Homo sapiens: one gene and its partner. The protein of the gene in region 2 purifies or fractionates together with the protein of the main gene of each other region. This does not show direct contact. Each region holds a gene or a part of one and is shown on either strand. Other genes may lie near its edges.

What was found.
Region 1: the proteins of LRRC75A (region 2) and PRCP fractionate together in Homo sapiens (co-fractionation; one large-scale study listed by BioGRID). This does not show direct contact.

Annotation. Positions count from the first base shown.
Region 1 is NC_000011.10:82,851,810-82,855,628, reverse strand, and holds part of PRCP (lysosomal Pro-X carboxypeptidase isoform 1 preproprotein), read left to right. Parts: intron 1-2,350; coding exon 2,351-2,452; intron 2,453-3,819. UniProt on the Homo sapiens protein: Cleaves C-terminal amino acids linked to proline in peptides such as angiotensin II, III and des-Arg9-bradykinin. This cleavage occurs at acidic pH, but enzymatic activity is retained with some substrates at neutral pH.
Region 2 is NC_000017.11:16,447,081-16,450,899, forward strand, and holds part of LRRC75A (leucine-rich repeat-containing protein 75A), read right to left. Parts: intron 881-3,819; coding exon 765-880; intron 1-764.

The DNA of each region.
Region 1 (3,819 bases), on a different chromosome or scaffold from region 2:
TATTATTTTTTGAACAGAGTCTCGCTCTGTTGCCCAGGCTCGAGTGCAGTGGCGTGATCTGGGCTCGCTGCAAGCTCCGCCTCCCGGGTTCACGCCATTCTACTGCCTCAGTCTCCCGAGTAGCTGGGACTACAGGTGCCCGCCACCACGCCCGGCTAAGTTTTTTGCATTTTTAGTAGAGACGGGGTTTCACCGTGTTAGCCAGGATGGTCTCGATCTCCTGACCTTGTGATCCGCCCACCTCAGCCTCCCAAAGTGCTGGGATTACAGGCGTGAGCCACCATGCCCGGCCCTTTTCTTGTAAATTTAAGTTCCTTATAGATTCTAGATATTAGACCTTTGTCAGATGCATAGTTTGCAAATATTTTCTCTCATTCTGTAGGTGGTCTGTTTACTCTGTTGATAGTTTCTTTTGCTGTGCAGAAGCTCTTTAGTTTAATTAGGTCCCACTTGTCAGCTTTTGTTTTTGTTGCAATTGCTTTTTGGGACTTAGTCATAAATTCTTTGCCAAGGCTGATGTCCAGAATGGTATTTCCTCAGTTTTCTTCTGGGGTTTTTGGGCTTTTTATAGTTTTCAGTTTTACATTTAAGTCTTTTATCCATTTTGAGTTGATTTTTGTATATGGTGAAAGGAAGGGGTCCAGTTTCAATCTTCTGCATATGGCTAGCCAGTTATCCCAGCACCATTTATTGAATACGGAGTCCTTTTCCCATTGCTTGTTATTGTTGACTTTATTTAAGATCAGGTTGTTGCAAGCATGTGGCTTGATTTTTGGATTCTCTATCCTGTTACATTGGTCTGCATGCCTATTTTTGTACCAGTACCTGATGTTTTGGTTATTGTAGCCTTGCAGTATAGTTTGAAGTCAGGTAGTGTGATGCCTCTGGCTTTGTTTTTCTTGCTTAGGATTGCTTTGGTGATTCAAGTTTTTTGTTTGTTTGTTTGTTGTTGTTTTATATGGATTTCAAAATAGTTTTTTTTTCCTAACTCTGTGAAAAATGATGTTGGTAATTTGATAGCAATAGTATTGAATCTGTAAATTGCTTTGGGGAGTATGGCCATTTTAACAATATTGATTCTTCCTATGTATGAACATGGAATGTCTTTCCATTTCTTTGTGTTGTTTCTGATGCCTTTCAGCAGTGGTTTGTAATTCTCATTGTAGAGATGATTCACTTCCTTGGTTAGCTGTATTCCTGGATATTTCATTCTTTTTGTGGCTATTGTAAATGGGATTGTGTTTTTGATTTGGCTGTTAGCTTGATTGTTATTGGTATATAGACATGCTACTGATTTTTATACATTAAATTTGATAATGAAACTTTACTGAAGTTGTTTTGTCACTTCTAGAAGTCTTTTGGTGGAGTCTGTGGGGTTTCTAGGTATAGCATCATATCATTTGTGAAAAGAGACAGTTTGACATCCTCTCTTCCTGTTTGGATGCCTTTTATTTCTTTCTCTTGCCTGATTGCACTGGCTATAACTTCCAGTGCCGTGTTGGATAAGAGTGCTGAGACAGAGCATGCTTGCCTTGTCTTAGTTCTCAAGGGGAATGCTTACAGCTTTTGCCCATTCAGTACGATGTTGGCTATGGGTTTGTCATAGATGGCTTTTATTATGTTGCGGTATGTTCCTTCAATACCTACTTTTTTGAGAATTTTTACCATGAAGGGATGTTGAATTTTGTCGAATACATTTTCTGCATCTATTGAGATGATCATGTGGTTTTATTTTTTAGTTCTGTTTATGTGGTGAATTCTGTTTATTGATTTGTGTATGTTGAACCATCCTTGCATCCAGGAATAAAGCCTATATGATTCTGGTAAATTAACTTCTTGATGCTGCTGGATTTTGGTTTGCTAGCTTTGTTAAGGGTTTTTGCATCTATTTTCGTCAGGGATATTGGCCCGAAGTTTTCTTGTTTCATTGTGTCCCTGCCAGGTGTTGTATCATAATGATGCTAGCTTCATAGAATGAGTTAGGGAAGAGGCCCTCGTCCTTATTTAAAAATAATTTCAGTAGGATTTGTACTGGCTCTTTGTACATGAAGACCATTTTAGACATAATGTTGATGCTAGGGCTAGAGTGTCAGGATAAAAAGACGTGGATGACTAGTGGATGAGCAACCTGGGATTATTTTTAATTGTTTCACTCATAAAGTGTGAGATTGATATGCAACAATAAGACATCAATTATGTCATTTATTTGTGGAACAAACACAAATTGTGCAACTTTGTAGAGTGCTCTTTTTGTTCTGGCTTAACATCTATTCCATATGGTTTGCCAAAAGGTTCAGTGACTTTTTTTCACATTCTGATTTTATCCTGTGATTTTGTAAACTCTTCTTAGGGGTTCATGTGGGATGTGGCTGAGGAACTGAAAGCTATGTTGGTGTTTGCTGAACATCGATACTATGGAGAGTCTCTCCCCTTTGGTGACAACTCATTCAAGGTAAAGATACTTTTTACTTAAAAGTTACAAGCTTTTTCTTTTCAATTTAGAATAGTTTCTAAATTATATGCCCCACTGTGAGATAACTTAAATTTGAAATGCCTAAAAGCTCAATAGTTTATATTTAATAGTTTCTTTTTAGATACAATTTGAACAGACTGAGGGTTTTTTTTAAGCCATTTTATTATAATTCTTAATGTTAATCAGTTTTTAACTCTGTGTGCCTCAGAAAGTTAAATTTTACTCTGTGGCTGCAGAGACAGCACAGGGAGCTTTTTATTATTTCAAAAATATCAGTAAACAATTCCGCTTTATAAATCGTACACTTAAATTATTGAGCCTGCCACTGGAAAAAATATAATGAGCATAACAAATTTATCTGATAAGATGTTTTTAATAAAATAAAATCAATAAAATAAGGACAAATAAGCTGTATGATGCATTAAGGCCAACTGGCCCCTTGGATTCCCTTTCAGCCTTTCCTGTTCTCACAGGAGCTTTGGCCTTTGTCACAGACTCTACCTAATAAACCAGGACACTTTTTCTTCAACTGAGTCATTCATGTACTACTACACTTGTGACTTTGGCTATATTAATTTGCCACGTGTACTATTATTTACCTAATATTTTTCTTTAATCAGCTCACTTTTTAAACTTAGCATTATCTTAACCAAGGGCTCTGTGTACTGGTTATTCTTTACAAATTACACTAAAATGAAGCAATAAATGTTCCATTAAAAATGTTTGTGTGCTTCCTAATACCATCAGTGTATACATATGCTTTTGGGAACTCTCAGCTAGAAGGACTTGGGGCCAGTCCTTTACTAGGCTGCCTATTTTGAAAGGAGTTTTTATTTTTAAAAAGGATATTTTACTATCTCATATTATAAATAAATACAATAGTAAAAATAAGTAAAAATGTTGTGTTATAAATATAAAGTGGGATGATTTGCTGATATTTGTTGAGCTGTATGGGAAATTCTATTCTTTAGCTTGGTATTTTGCGTAAATATCTGATTAAGGGACTTGACAAGTCCTGAAACCACTGGGAAGCAGTTAGCTTGTTGTAGATAGAACATAACTTCCTCTCCTAGGTTTCTATAAATGATACTGTGTTAGCAAAATGGAGCCAGGGGCTCTTTTTGATATACTTCTTTCCCTTTGTGTGCTCACAGAATATGTCAGTAGCATGAAGGATATTATAGATATTATGCAAGGATTAGAAAAAAAATGCACTCAACTGTACAGAGTGCCATAAAAACTGGAAGTAAAGGATAGTGACAGACAGGGAGAGAGGAGGTAAGAAGGCATACATCTTGGAAGAGGGGGGAAAGCTAAAGGAGTAGGTGGCATATATAGGAGATAGG
Region 2 (3,819 bases):
GAGGGCACACCACTCAGCTATCATTTGCAAAAAGACAGGTGTGCTTCCTTCTCCAGGAAGCCTTACTTCCAGGCTCCCCTCTACTTGCTTCCTACGGTGTTATCACAGCCCACAGGTTCTGTGTCCTACATGCCCCTCAACCCCTACCAATCTTCAAGGGACTCTGAACCCCCTTGTTGCTGTATGGACCAGGGACAGGGCTGGGGTCTGGGTCCCCCTGGGGACATCTGAGATAACTGAGGAGTTACTAGGGAGTGCTTGTTGCTCAGGCTGGAGTGCAGTGGCGCTGTCTCTGCTCACTGCAACCTCCACCTCCCTAGTTCAAGTGATTCTCCTGCCTCAGCCTCCTGAGAAACTAGGATTACAGGTGTGCACCACCACGCCTGGCTAATTTTTGTATTTTTACAGGGTTTCGCCACATTGGTCAGGCTGGTCTCGAACTCCTGACCTCAAGTGATCCACCTGCCTCAGCCTCCCAAAGTGCTGGGATTACAGGCATGAGCCAAACACTGTGCTTATCTGGGAGTGCCCACTTTAGCACACCAGGAATTAGAAATTTCTCACATCTTCCTCCCACCCACCAGACCAGGGTCCCCCTCTAGATGTTTCCCCACTCTGGAATCCTCCTTCCATCTTACCTCCTTCAGGCAGCTTCTATGACCACCCCCCATGACTCCGCCCTTCCCTTCCCTACATCCCTGGGAGGGGTGCCCTGTAACACACACTCAGCCTGGCATAGACCTGCCCGGGGGAGTGTAACTCACCAGGCCTGTGGCTTCCTTTTCACCAGCCCCCGGTGCCGCCTCCACTGGGAGTGGGGGCTGAGGTGGTATGTCAGCTGCCGGCACAGCTTCTCCATGGCGCCCAGTGCATCGCCTTCCTGCAGAGGCAACCATGGGTGGTAGGGCCCTGAGTGGCTGGGTGCACCAGTCTCAGCCCCCAGGCTTCCTGTCTCCCGGGTAAGAGCCCAGCTCCCCCAGGCTGAGCTGGGGGAGGCCCTGCTCTGCTGGCCTAGGGTGGGCACCCTAGGCAGACAGCAGTGGCTGCAAACAGATCTGCAGGATGGTTTTAGTTTTTGTGAATTAGTTGCTAGCATTGAAAAACAGATTTATGTAAGTCTGGATTCCAGGAGATCGGACAAAAGTTGGCTGGAGCCAAGTGCCTGCTGACCCCCTGGCCAAGACTCACCATGATCCCTGCCACTCCCCAATGTCCAGGGCCGCTCTGTGCATTCTCTTGCTCAGCAGATTTATTGAGCACTTACTCGGAGCCAGGCACTTGTTCTAGGAAGCTAGGATATGGCCATGAACAAATGTTCGTGTCCTTGTATTTCACATAGTAAAGGGGAAAATGAGATATTTTTACCTGTGTCTCCCTCAAAAGTGAGAACAAATGAATGAGGAGGCCAAGTCTTTCCCAGCGCAGTTCATTCACATGCGTTCCTGTCAGGCCCGTTGGCATCTGAGTTTGAAACCCTGGGTGTCATGGGCTGAACTGTATCCCGCTGACAATCACAAGTTGATGTCCTAACCCCTAGTACCTTGGAATGCAGCTGTATTTGGAGACAAGGCCTTTAAAGAGGTGACTAAGGTAAAATGAGGTCAGAGGAGTAGGCCCTAATCCTGTATGACTGGTGTCCTAAGAAGAAGAAATGAGGACACAGACATGCAGAGGAACAACCACTTGAGGACACAGGAGGAGGAGGGACTGACAGACCTAGGAGAGAGCCTCAGAAGGAAACCCACCAGCCAGCCTTGGACTTCTAGCCTTCAGAGCTGTGCGAAACGAACTGTCTGCTGTTTAGACCACCAGTCTGTGATTTTTTGTTATGGCAGACACTGGGTTAAATGGTGCAGCTGAAAGATGCTACAGACTCCAACTACATCCCTAGGAAAGTCAATCCAACAGTCCCCGGAGCCAAACTCGTGCTGGACAGGGTGAGGGCATGAGTCCCTCCAGGGAGTGAGGACCAAAAGCGTGCTCCTGCCAGTGGGCCAGTGCTGAGGCTTGGATGCAAGCGCTGAGGCTTGGATGCAAGCGCTGGACTCAGATGCAAACCCACATGTGGCCAACGACTCGGTGTGGGGAGGTCCGGCACGTTAACCACGCACAGTGCTCAGCATGGTGCCTGGAGTGGGTGCTCAACAGGCTGCTTTGTCATTACGATTCCCACACCCCTCTGCTAGTGGACAAGCAGTGTATTGAGTAGTGAAGAGCAAAGACCTGGGGCCAAACCGTGGGGATTCAAGTCCTGGCTTTGTCCCGTTCTGTGTGGCCTTGGACAATTGCTTGACTTCTCTGTGCTCCAAACCACATCTGTGAAAGGATTACAGTACAGACCTCACAAGAGTTTCTGTGAGGATTAAATGAGTCACTACTAGCGCAGTGCTTTGAATAGAGCCCAACCCACAGCAAGCTCTCCAGGCACACTCTAAGTGAATACCGTGATAGCGGCACCAGCACAGAGAATTCTGGCAGGGCAAGGAGGGAAGATGACTTCTGCCCAGGCTCAGATTTGAGCTCAGCTTTATTTTAATTTAATTTAATTTATTTTTTGAGACAGTCTTGCTCTGTCACCCAGGCTGGAGTGCAATGGCACGATCTCGGCTCACTGCAACCTCCGCCACCTGGGTTCGAGTGATTCTCCTGCCTCAGCCTCCCGAGTAGTTGGGATTACAGGCACCCGCCATCACACCTGGCTAGTTTTTGTATTTTTAGTAGAGATGGGGTTTCACCATGTTGGTCAGGCTGGTCTTGAACTCCTGACCTCAAGTGATCCACCCGCCTTGGCCTCCCAAAGTGCTGGGATTACAGGTGTGAGCCACCGCGCCCAGGCTGAGCTCAGCTTTTAAGAGCAGATGGGTTAGTGATTTCAGATGGAGAAAGAAAACGTGAGGCATCCTTGAGTGAGGAGGAAACAGTCTGTGGCAGGGCTTGGTGATGTGGCGGCTGTGGGGTGTGTTACTGACATGAGGGCAGGTGAAGGCCTGGGGCCTGATCACATCTGGTCCCTCCATGGTTCAAGCCACTGTCAGCCCTGCACACCAGACATCACGCAAGAAGGTTATGGAATTCCCACAGCACCCCAAGGCAGTAGATACTTTCGTTATTCCCATTATGCAGTGGGGGAGCCTGAGGCCCAGAGGGCTGGGGATGGGCTTGGGGCTGATGGGAAGGCAAGAGAAGGAGACTCTGAGGAAGGGGGACAAGAGAGAGAGGAGTTGGGAAGATGGCAGTTGAATGTCCAAAGGAGAGAGGCATCTGTGGAGGGACCCAGGAAGCAAAGGAGGGCCCGAGACTGAACAGAACGGATTTGGAGGAGGCCCCTGGGCTCCAGTTCACAGCCCATCCCCACCCCTGCCCCCAGCTTCCTGGTGCCTGGCTGTCTGATGAATAAGCTTGTATCACCTGCCACTTGCACCTGTATCACACCTGTGTGTTACACCTGTCACTCCTGTGTGTCACTCTTGTGTGTTGCAGATGTGGGGGCAGGTGAGCATCTGCCTTTACGGCTTCATTCCCCACCCCTGGAGCTGACATCTTTTGGTTCCTAGACTTAGCTTCTTGCTGAACCTGGCCACATGACTGTGTGGAGGGAAGCAAGGCGGGTGAAGCAGGAGGAGCTGGTCATGGGGGCTGCAGGGGAGTCCCTCAAGGGGGATGTTCCTCAGACTGGGAGATGGAGAGAGGGGTGGACAGGAGGTGGAGAGGATGACTCAGGGCCAGGCTATTGGAAGGGGCTGAGGGGACAGAGGCCACACAGCTGACTGATATGCTGGATGGAGAAGGTGTGGGCAGGGAGGGTGAGGAGGGTCTAGG